Regions from separate parts of the Homo sapiens genome. Here region 1 is reported to be linked to region 2. Evidence: microRNA targets listed by miRTarBase, many of them from high-throughput screens and not tested one by one. Region 2 holds a microRNA gene; the other region holds the end of a gene's coding sequence.

Region 1 (5,375 bases), not on the chromosome of region 2:
CTAAAGAAACGTGCTTTTAGGTTTTAAAAACAGTCCCGATAATTGCATCCTCCAGTGGTCCTACTTAAACTGAAAACAAGGTATTGTCTTCTTTTTCACAGCAAGACCACACAACACAGAGGTGTTGGATGAAAACAGCAAGCCCTTTTCAATGCAGCAGTCCATAGAATGCCTCTGTCAGAATCAAAGACTAAGCTTAAGAGTTCCTCGCATATATCGTTGTGCACAGGATCAACATGATGGTGACTGGGAAAAAATTACTTCAAGTAACATGCTTAGCTTTCCCTCCTTAATGTGAAAAATCAAGGGCTTACTGACATAGGAACAACAGAAATGCTCCTGGAACTTCAAGTTGCTGAATTATAAGTTTATTTTTTATCAATAAATATTTTTATACTTACATTGAGTGATGTGTTTAACAACAAATTGTGACAGAGCTGAGTGCTCCTATCTTACAGGGTCAATGAACTACTTATTAAGCCTTACTGGTAGCACTGAATTTAGCAGTTCTGAGAACATGTGAAACTATGTTAAAACTGAAGGCACTATATATTTTTACATAAAAGCTTGAACATACAGATGAATTATAACCTATGTGAAGAAATCTTAGATATAAAACTAACTTTTCAAAGATACAAAAGAAATTAAACAGGTTTCCTGAAATTTTAGTTCTTGGTCTGTTCACCTCTGTGGGGAAAATTCTTAGTTCCAGTGATAACTGTTCTAGTTACTACTTTTAAGTATGTAAATACTAGAAAGGTAGTACTAGTGACATCATCACGTGTATTGTTATCTATGGGGCAAATGTGTGGTGCCCAGAATAAAATATACCTCATGCCTAGGGTAGGGACATCCTTTCCAGCTCAAACGTGGGTAGGGATGTGGGAGAATAAGAATGTGGGAGAACCAAGAGAAAAAGTGGGGCTGGGAGAGTGGAGTTCCCGTAGGGCATAGGCCTGTGAAGTAACACTGGGGCAGATATGTATGTTATATACAACTATTTTTTTAAAAAACTTATATCCATGTTGGGAGTAGATGGGTATATAACAGTTTGGAAATACTATCTTTGGAGAATGTATTTTTGTATTTATAAATCAACTTTTAAAAACTGTCTCATTCAAAAGGGAATAAAGACCTGTGTTATCAATGTGTCATTTTCTTCTTTCCTCCATAACTGTACCTTGAAACCTTACTGCTGACCTGCAGAAAATGTGCCGCGTTATGTACCTGGCTCATCTTCAACACACTAACCATGAACACTAATAGCCATTAGGGGACATGGCTACAGATACTACATTGGAAAGTTGTCTTTAATCACACAGGTGTTAAACTCAATATAAATTTACCTAAAAACAATTGCTATACCTAAAAGGAGTTCTGGGTACTAAGGGTAGAAGCCTCACTGGCTACAGTTTTTTAATAGTACAAAAGTCAAGAAATAACACAATAGTGACTATAACCTGTATTCAAATCCCTACTCTGTCACTACTTGATCTGGGCTGATATGGTATGGCTCTGTGTCCTCACCCAAATCTAACCTTGAATTGTAGCAATCCCCACGTGTCAAGGGTGGGACCAGGTGGAGGTAACTGGATCATGGGGGCGGTTTCCTCCATGCTGTTCCTGTGATAGTGAGCCGGTCTCATGAGATCTGAAGGTTTTATAAGCGTCTGGCATTTCCACTGCTGGCAGTCATTTTCATCCTGCCGCCCTGTGAAAAAGGTGCCTGCTTCTCCTTTTTCTGCCATGATTGTGTAAGTGTCCTGAGGCCTCACCAGCAATGCGGAACTGAGTCCATTAAACCTCTTTCCTTTATAATAATTACCCAGTTTGGGGTATTTCTTCGTAGCAGTGTGAGAACAGACCATAAACCTCCATTTTCTCATCTGTTAAATGGAGATAACAGTCCTGGCTTAACAGGGCTTTTTGAGTTAAGTGATATATTCCACGTAACCTGCTTAGCATAAGAACTGGCACTAGAAACAGAACATTTTAGATTATGGAATAGAACTTAGGGGAAAATAGCAAAGTCTCTGATCATCTTGAACTACTCAATTGGGACTTATCCCTGAATTAAACCTTTCTAGTAGCTGAAGCACAAGAAAATAAACTTGGAAAGAAAAAACCTAAGGCCAGTCATGCACTGCCCTACTTCCCTTTCTTCTCTATTGCAGGTTAACTATGGCCTGTAGGCAGTTTTTCTTCTCTTTTTTTTTTTTTGAGACAGTCTTGTTCTGTCACCCAGGCTGGAGTGCAGTGGCGCGATCTTGGCTCACTGCAACCTCTGCCTCCCAGGTTCAAGCGATTCTCCTGCCTCAGCCTCCTGAGGTGGGATTAAAGGCACTTGCCACCACACCTGGCTAATTTTCTTTTCTTTTTTTTTTTTTTTTTTTGCGATGGAGTCTCACTCTCATCATCCAGGCTGAACTGCAGTGGTGCAATCTCGGCTCACTGCAACTTCCGCCTCCCAGGTTCAAGCGATTCTCCTGCCTCAGCCTCCCAAGTAGCTGGGATTACAGGCATCCGCCGTTACACCCAGCTAAGTTTTTGTATTTTTAGTAGAGACGGCGTTTTACCATGTTGGCCAGGCTGGTCTCAAACTCCTGACATCGAGTGATCCACCCGCCTCGTCCTCCCAAAATGCTAGGATTACAGGCATGAGCCACCGCACCTAGCCGGCAAACTTTTTTAAATGGTTGGCGGGGGTGGGGGAAATCAAATGAGTAATGTTTTGTGACACATCAAAATTATAATGATGTGCTGCATAACTTTTGGTCAACAATGGCCAAATATACGATGATGATCCCGTAAGATTACAATGGAGCTGAAAAATTCCTATTGCCTGGGGACACAGCCATGGTAACATCATAGTGAAATTACTTTATGTAGCCTAAGTATATAGTGTTTATAAAAGTCTACAGTAGTGCACAGTAATATCATGGCCTTCACATTCACTAACCACTTACTGACTCACCCAGAGCCAGCTTCCAGTCCTGCCAACTTGTTCATGGTAAATGTCCTAAATAGGTGTACCATTTTATATCTTATATATATCTATATATATATTTTTACTGTACCTTTTCTATGTTTAGATATGTTTAGATACACAAATACTTAGCACTGTGTTACAACCGCCTACAGTAATCAGTACAGTAATATGCCATACAGGTTTGTAGGTTAGGAGCAATAGGCTATCCCATATAGGATACCATAGGGTATACCATCTAGGTTTGTGTAACTACATCATGATTTTCACACAATGATGAAATTGCCAAGTGACATGTCTCAGAACATATCCCTGTCATTAAGTGACATATGACTATATATGAAACTTAACAAATCAGGCCTTGTTGAAACACAGTCATGTTGATTTGTTTACATATTGTATATGGCTCCTTACACACTATCAACGGCAGAGTTGTGTACTATAGTTGCAATACAGACCATAGCCAACAAAGTCTAAAATGTTCTAGCACTTCACAGAAAAGGTTTTTTGACTCCTACTCTACTGTTTCAGTGTCACTGACCCATTTTACCTGGACCAAAGACTACTCAAGTCTATTTTCCTCCAACTGACACAAGTTTCTGCCTCAGTGTATGGAGGTTTTCCTCAGTAATAGGAAACTGGAAAAATTAGTCAACATTTATTGAGTGCCTAAATGACTACCTATTTAGTATACCTGCTGATTTACTTGGCAGGCTTTTCTCACTATACTGCAAGCTCCTTGAAGGCAGAGATAATTTACTTGAGTGGAACCTGGCACAACGTAAGTGCTTTAGAAATTGAATAAGCCAAGTAAAATGTTTTAAGGCAACCCTATCCCAAAATATTCCTGAAGATATTAATTTAATCATTACTAATCTCTGTGATTAGCAAGGGAAGTAGTCAGTCTGGCACACCAAATTTTATTAATAATACTTATTTTAATCTGTTCCCTTTAGTATGTCTTTATACAGTTCCCCTCGTGTATATACACTGATATAACTACAATTTAAAAGCCACTAATTAATCTGTTTTTTATTTTGTAAGTAACAAGATATAGACATTTGAATGCCAATGTCTTATTCTGGAGAGACACTGGAGCTGAAGTTCAACAATGATCACACTTATTACCTGGCAATAAAAACACAACCATCTTTCCAGTCAGGTCAAAATATCCTACTTTTTGCCTTTCTACCAATTCCCAAACATTCACAGTTTTTCAAGGACCACTAATAAAATACAGGAAGCTTTTAAAGACAGTAAGAGAACACCTAGTGTAAGTTAGGTGAATTAAAGATGGCAAAGGAGATTACATCCTCAACACTGACAGCTTCCAAGACTTAGAAAAGAGATTGTTCCTTGCTTCTAAAATTGTTCTATTTTCCTCTGTAGGAAAATGAAAGTTTTTTCTTACAAATATTAAATAATCAAAGTACTTACGCAAAATTAATCTGCTCCTCAATGAGATGAGCACTCCATTTAAATGATCTTTACAGATCCCTGAAGTTGCTGTCCTGTCACTGTATTTAAGTGATGGATATTCAATTGAATTATTCTGCATAAATAATTCTGTTCAACCCAGAAGTATAGTAGTATGATGGGTCAGATACAGTCAACTGTTCAATAAAAATGCAGATGTCTGAAATTATTAAAATGTACTTAAAAGTAACAAACTGTATCACACACTTAGGCTTAGAAGTGTTCTTTCAAGTTTTTTCTTTTAAAAAAGAAACCAGTCTTTGAAGATTTTTGTTGAATATAGCTATTTTCCAAGCTTCATCTTCTTTTTCTTTGGTCCATTAAGGTCCATGTTTGAAGTATCAGTAGGAATGCTTATTCCTGGTATCTAAAGTAATGCAAATGGGGGGAAATAAGGTGATTTAAAGGATAGAATACATCTCAACCTCATCCTCCCCTTCCCCACTGCCAGCTTCAAATTTAAAAGGATGTAGTGGTAGGGAGGGGAAAGGGGGCTAATTAAAGGTTTTATACACAGAAGGTATTTTACAAAGTAGCAGTGGTTCAAAAATGTAAAAGCTAGACATGGTCTCAACAGGTGAGAAGCATGTCATTTAGGAAGTGTTCTTTTTAACTACAAAACAGCCTTCCCAATGGGGAGCCACTGTGATTGACAGAATCAGAGTTGATTTCAAGTGTGTTGGGGAAGGACAAAAGTTAAGAACCAGTATCTTAGGTGAAACACCTACACTTCATCTTCAAAATGCAGAGTTCAAAACTTCTAGATAGAAAAGACTAGGCAGGAGAATGGAAGACCTTTTTATTTTAGCACCAAAGACCTGAACAGAATCTCAGATGTCTAGAATCCCGTGGCCTAAAGAAATCAGTGAGAAAACAGGATTTGCTATGCAAATATTTGGTTTCTACACTACTT
Region 2 (5,375 bases):
GGGACCCCTCTGCTCGGCTCCCGTGGAGCTGCCCCCTGCAGCGGTGCCCGGGCCCTTCTCAGCCCTGTTCCCCCCCAGGTTCATCCTCGATGACTCCGCCTTGTACCTGTCCGACAAGTGTGAGGTGGAGACCCTGGACCTGCGGCGAGGTGGGCAGGGCCGGGACTGGGCTCCCTCCCCTCTGAGGGACCACCGCCCCGGCCACACCCAGAGCAGCCAGGTGTCTCCCCGCAGCTGCTGGCCGGGTCCTTAGCTCCCACACGTAGCCCGCACAGCAGGGACTACACCTGGATCAACCGGATCCTTCCCCCAGGTGCTGGGGCCGGGGCCGGGTGGAAGGGGGCCACAGGACCTTTCTCTCGCCTCTGCTGCAGATTATGTCTGTGTTTTGGATGTTGACCTCTTGGAACTTGTGATTAAAACCTGGAAAGGGAGCACCGAGGGCAAACTGGTGAGTGAGGCTGTCACTCTGGCTCCTGGAGCCACAGCAGGTGCAGGGGCCAAGGGAGTCTTCAGGGGCTGCTGCTCCCTCACGTGCCTGGGCTCCGGACACAGTTCATGCCTGCCCTTCCTGGGCTGCAGTTAGCGCCCCTCCTGCAAAGGGCCATAGTACAGCCCTGGTGGGGGTGTCCCTTGATGCTGGCTGAATGAATGAATGGGTTTCAGCCCTGCCACCAGAGGACGCGGCAGCCAGGGCACCAGCGAGGCCCTGGGAATCAGCCACCTTTGTAGGTCCCCGGATTCATCTCCTGTAAGATGGAGATAACCTGCCCTGCCTCGCTAGGCATGCAGAGCCCTTCACGGGGAGTGGGGTAGGGTGGGTGGGCACACTCCTGCTTCCTTGGATGGCCCTGGGCCAAGCCCCTTTCACCCTCTGGGTGAACAGTTTGTTCATCTGTTCAGTGGAGTTACTGGGCAGGTCATCCACTCCAGGAGAGACCATCCCTGTTCTGCCTGTGGCAGGATCAGAACTGCGGTGCCCTCCCAGCGAGCGGGTGGGGCCAGCAGGCAGTGGCCCCTGTGTTCACATAGCTGCTCCCCCCACCCCGCCCCTGCAGAGCCAGCCACTATTCGAGCTGCGCTGCTCCAACAATGTGGTACACGTGCACAGCTGTGCCGACTCCTGTGCCCTGCTGGTCAACCTGCTCCAGTACGTAATGAGCACAGGCGATCTGCACCCCCCACCCCGGCCCCCCAGCCCCACGGAGATCGCCGGCCAGAAGGTACAGGTGAGGCCTGGCCACACAGGCTACCAGAGCTCGGCCAGGCCCCTCCCCTGCCATGGCCCTCGGGCCTGGGGTTGGGGGAGCTCTGTCCTGTCTCACTCATTGCTCCTCCCCTGCCTGGCCCAGCTCTCGGAGAGTCCTGCCTCTCTGCCCTCGTGCCCCCCAGTGGAGACGGCCCTCATCAACCAGCGTGACCTGGCCGACGCCCTCCTGGACACCGAGCGCAGCCTACGGGAGCTGGCCCAGCCTTCAGGTGAAGTGGGGGTGCTGTGGGGACAGCAGACACAGTCAGGCACCCACTGTGGGCGCCTCTCCAAACTGGCCTCTCTCCTATAGGTGGCCACCTCCCTCAGGCGTCGCCCATCTCCGTCTACCTATTCCCAGGTGAACGGAGTGGGGCCCCACCCCCTTCACCACCTGTCGGGGGCCCTGCTGGCAGCTTAGGGTCATGCTCAGAGGAGAAGGAAGATGAAAGGGAAGAGGAGGGCGATGGAGACACCCTGGACAGTGATGAGTTCTGCATCCTTGATGCTCCCGGCCTGGGCATCCCGGTGCGTGGTGGGAGGGATGGACCAGTTTGCCGTCCAGGCAGGTGTGTTTGGAGCGGGGACGGAACACTCAGGGGTGGTTGCCTGGCCATCTGGAGCTCCCGTGGTGAGAGAAGCAGGCAGGAGGTGGTTGCCATCACCTCGGGGGTGGTGCTAGGTCTGTGCCACCCTAGGGAGGCAGCCCTGATGCTGGGCTTTGATGGAGTAGGGGGATTTCCAGAGGAAGAGGAGGCCTGGTGTTTTGGGCAGAGGGACTGGGAAATTCAAGGGATGGAGGAAGAGGAGAGGGCAGTTAGCAAGAGGGATGGAGAACCATGTGGCTGCAAGGGCCAGTGGGAATGTCTGAACTCACCCAGGTCTTAGGAGGCAGGGCTGGCAGGAGCCTGGCATTCTCAGGCTCCTCTTGGACAGACCACTCAGGCATAGACTCGGGTGATAGCAACCCAGGAGTGTCATCTTTCATCAAAAACAGGGAGGAGGCCAAGCATGGTAGGTTACGCCTGTAATCCCAGCAATTTGGGAGGTCAAGGTGGGAGAATTGCTTGAGTCCAGCAATGAGAGATTAGCCTGAGCAACATAGTGAGACCCCGTCTCTACAAAAAATAAAAATAAAATTAGCCAGATATGGTGGCACATGTCTGCAGTCCCTGCTACTCAGGAGGCTGAGAATGGAGGATCGCTTGAGCCTAGGAGGCAGAGGTTGCAGTGAACTGTGATTGTGCCACTGCACTCCAGCCTGGGTGACCGAACATGACCCGACCCTGTCTATAAAAAAAAAAAAATGAAAAAGAAGTGAGGCCAGGTTGCTGGGGCTGGGGGCAGCTGGGCTGGATCGAACATCTGTGTCACACGTCTACCTGGCCTCCCTGCAGCCCCGAGATGGGGAGCCTGTGGTGACACAGCTGCATCCCGGCCCCATCGTTGTGAGGGACGGTTACTTCTCACGGCCGATCGGCAGCACGGACTTGCTGCGGGCACCTGCCCATTTCCCAGTGCCCAGCACTCGGGTGGTGCTACGTGAGGTCTCCCTCGTCTGGCACCTCTATGGGGGCCGAGACTTTGGCCCCCACCCCGGCCACAGGTGAGGAGGAGCGGGTGCAGGTGGCAGCTGGTGAAGGTTGGGGCTCAGGCTGGTCCAGGTCTGACTTTCAGCAGCTGGAGACCTTGAGCCCCATCCACCCCAGGTGGGCCTCAGTTTCCTCATCCTTCCTTATCCCGCCTGCCTTCCAGGACTGGGGCTAGCGGGGGTCTCTTGTCCCAGGCTAAAAGGCCCGCTGAGGACGGGGAGGGAATGGGGTTCCTCTGAGTCAGCTTGGCCCCTGTCCCTCTTCCCAGGGCAAGAACTGGCCTCTCAGGTCCCAGGAGCTCCCCTTCCCGCTGCTCTGGCCCCAACCGGCCCCAGAACTCATGGCGCACGCAGGGGGGCAGCGGGCGGCAGCACCATGTCCTCATGGAGATCCAGCTGAGCAAGGTGAGTGGGGTGGCGAGTGCCTACTACACGTGTGTGTCATAGAACAACGGGCCTTGTTCTCGATGTCACGTGTAGCAATGACTAATGCAGAGGAAAACCCCTGCCTTTGTAGTGGAGGAAGCCAGGCAGGGACCAAGATGTATCGAGTGTGTCCGATGGTGAAGAGCGCTCAGGGGAGAGTCTGCAGGGGTGGAGGAGACAGGTGTGCTGGGGAGGGTCTGGAAAGTCCTCTTCTGAAGGCACCATTTGAACAAAGACCTGAACAAGTGGGGATGTGAGCCAGGAAGAGTTTTCAGGCAGAGAGGACAGCGTGAAAGCCGCAAATTGGGGCCAGGCATGGTGGCTTATGCCTGTAATCCCAGCACTTTGGAAGGCCGAAGAGAGCAGATCACCTGAGCTCAGGAGTTTGAGACCAGCCTGGGCAACATGGCGAAACCCCATTTCTACCAAAAAAAAAAAAAAAAAAAATTAACCATTTGCAGTGGTGTGTGCCTATAGTCCCAGCTACTCAGGAGGCTGAGGCAGGAGAGTTGTTTGAGCCCAAGAGGCAGAGGTTGCAGTGAGTTGAGATCGCCCTATTGCATTCCAGCCTGGGCAACAGAGTAAGACTCTGTTTCAAAAAAAAAAAAAAATGCTGGAAGCTGGAAGCATCCTGACATTTCCAGGAGCAGCAGAGCCTGTGCATAACCAGCGACCCAGAATGTTTCTTTTGAGTCTTACAAGAGACGAACCCCTCAGGGCTTTTGAGGAGAGGCCTCTGTGGGGTGGGGCTCTGCAGCAATCAGGGAGGGCTAGTGAGCAGGTTCAGGAGAGCCTAGATGGGGGCTGGCCACAGGTTCAGCTGCGGATGGGGTGTGTGAGATACAGAGAGTGGTACAGAGGGTTCAAGGTTTGGGCCTGGGAAATTGCCTGGGGCAGGGGGGTCCCACTTGCTCAGAGTGAGCCAGGCCAGTGCTGGGCTTCCCAAGGAGCCGCTAGAGGCAAAGGGCAGAGGGGCCTCAGGCTGCTCGGGTTGGTGGGCTGTGCTGCAAGAACCTGCGGGAGATGAGTGTCAGAGCAGGGGGCCAGGGGCCTCTCTGAGACCTGATGGCCAGCCAGCGGGTGTGCAGGAAGAGGGGGAAGGAAGGCTCTCCACGGAGAGGGGCTACGAGAGCAAAGTCCTGAAGGCAAAACAGGCCTGGACTCCTTGAGGGGCAGAGACCAGTGCAGCTGGCATGGGAAGCAAGAGCAGGGTCAGGTCTGGAGGGAGAGGCAGGTCCCTGCTGGGCATAGAATAGAGAAGGGGTAGGGGCCGGGCATGGTGGCTCATGCCTGTAGTCCCAGCACTTTGGGAGGACGAGGCAGGCAGATCACTTGAGGCCAGGAGTTCGAGACCAGCCTGGCCAACGTTGTGAAACCCTGTCTCTACTAAAATTAGCTGGGTGTGGTGGCACATGCCTGCAATCCCAGCTACTGGGGAAGCTGAGGCAGGAGAATCGCTTGAACCCGAGAGGCAGAGGTTGCAGTGAGCCGAGATCACGCCACTGCACTCCAACCTGGGCGACAGAGTGAGACTCTGTCTCAAAAAAAGAATAGAGAAGGGGTCTGGGGCCAGCCCTTCCCTCCCTCTTGGGGCCCTGCTTACCTGGCCAGGCCTCTGTCCACCCCACAGGTAAGCTTCCAGCACGAGGTGTACCCAGCGGAGCCAGCCACAGGCCCTGCGGCCCCCAGCCAGGAGCTGGAGGAGCGACCGCTGTCCCGTCAGGTGTTCATCGTGCAGGAGCTGGAGGTCCGAGACCGGCTCGCCTCCTCCCAGATCAACAAGTTCCTGTACCTACACACGAGTGAGCGGATGCCGCGACGTGCCCACTCTAACATGGTATGAGCGACCTGCACCATCCACCCTGGGGCAGGGCACCAGACCGTTGGGGATACATCTTCACGCATGCATGGATTCACACACATACACGCATTCCCACACAAACACCCAGGTTGTTTGTGAGCCTGGGAGAAGGGCAGAGCTAGGGGCTGTGTTAGCGAAGGGAACAGCGTGTTCAGAGGCAGGGTGGCTGGGTGAGCTGTCAGGGAACAGCTGGGTGAGCTGCTGCCCCAGAGGCCCAGCAGGTGTCCAGAACTCACCCTCTGCTCCCA

The links. Region 2 holds the annotated microRNA hsa-miR-6749-3p (CUCCUCCCCUGCCUGGCCCAG, at 1,332-1,352, shown strand). A microRNA usually pairs through its seed, bases 2 to 8, with sites in the 3' UTR of a target mRNA and lowers its output. Matches are read on the target gene's strand: a 7mer-m8 pairs with bases 2 to 8, a 7mer-A1 pairs with bases 2 to 7 and ends in A, and an 8mer does both.
Region 1: the mRNA of DIS3 is a reported target of hsa-miR-6749-3p. Seed matches in the 3' UTR shown: 7mer-A1 at 3,564-3,570, 7mer-m8 at 2,631-2,637, 7mer-A1 at 1,608-1,614 and 7mer-A1 at 1,164-1,170.

What each region holds. Positions count from the first base shown.
Region 1 is chr13:72,755,050-72,760,424 of GRCh38, forward strand. DIS3 (DIS3 exosome endoribonuclease and 3''-5'' exoribonuclease) reads right to left here. Exons shown (of 21, transcript NM_014953.5): 21 at 1-4,829. The coding sequence ends at 4,746. It overlaps BORA (BORA aurora kinase A activator), which reads left to right. Exons shown (of 12, transcript NM_024808.5): 12 at 102-1,147. The coding sequence ends at 167. Among named protein-coding and RNA genes, the nearest start is that of DIS3, 24 kb to the right of the region's middle.
Region 2 is chr11:64,898,364-64,903,738 of GRCh38, reverse strand. MIR6749 (microRNA 6749) reads left to right here and starts at 1,284; the gene lies at 1,284-1,352. It overlaps ATG2A (autophagy related 2A), which reads left to right. Exons shown (of 41, transcript NM_015104.3): 25 at 79-149; 26 at 375-451; 27 at 1,059-1,223; 28 at 1,353-1,479; 29 at 1,563-1,777; 30 at 2,647-2,855; 31 at 3,110-3,245; 32 at 4,897-5,103. It overlaps MIR6750 (microRNA 6750), which reads left to right and starts at 5,302; the gene lies at 5,302-5,375. RefSeq lists an enhancer at 3,289-3,418.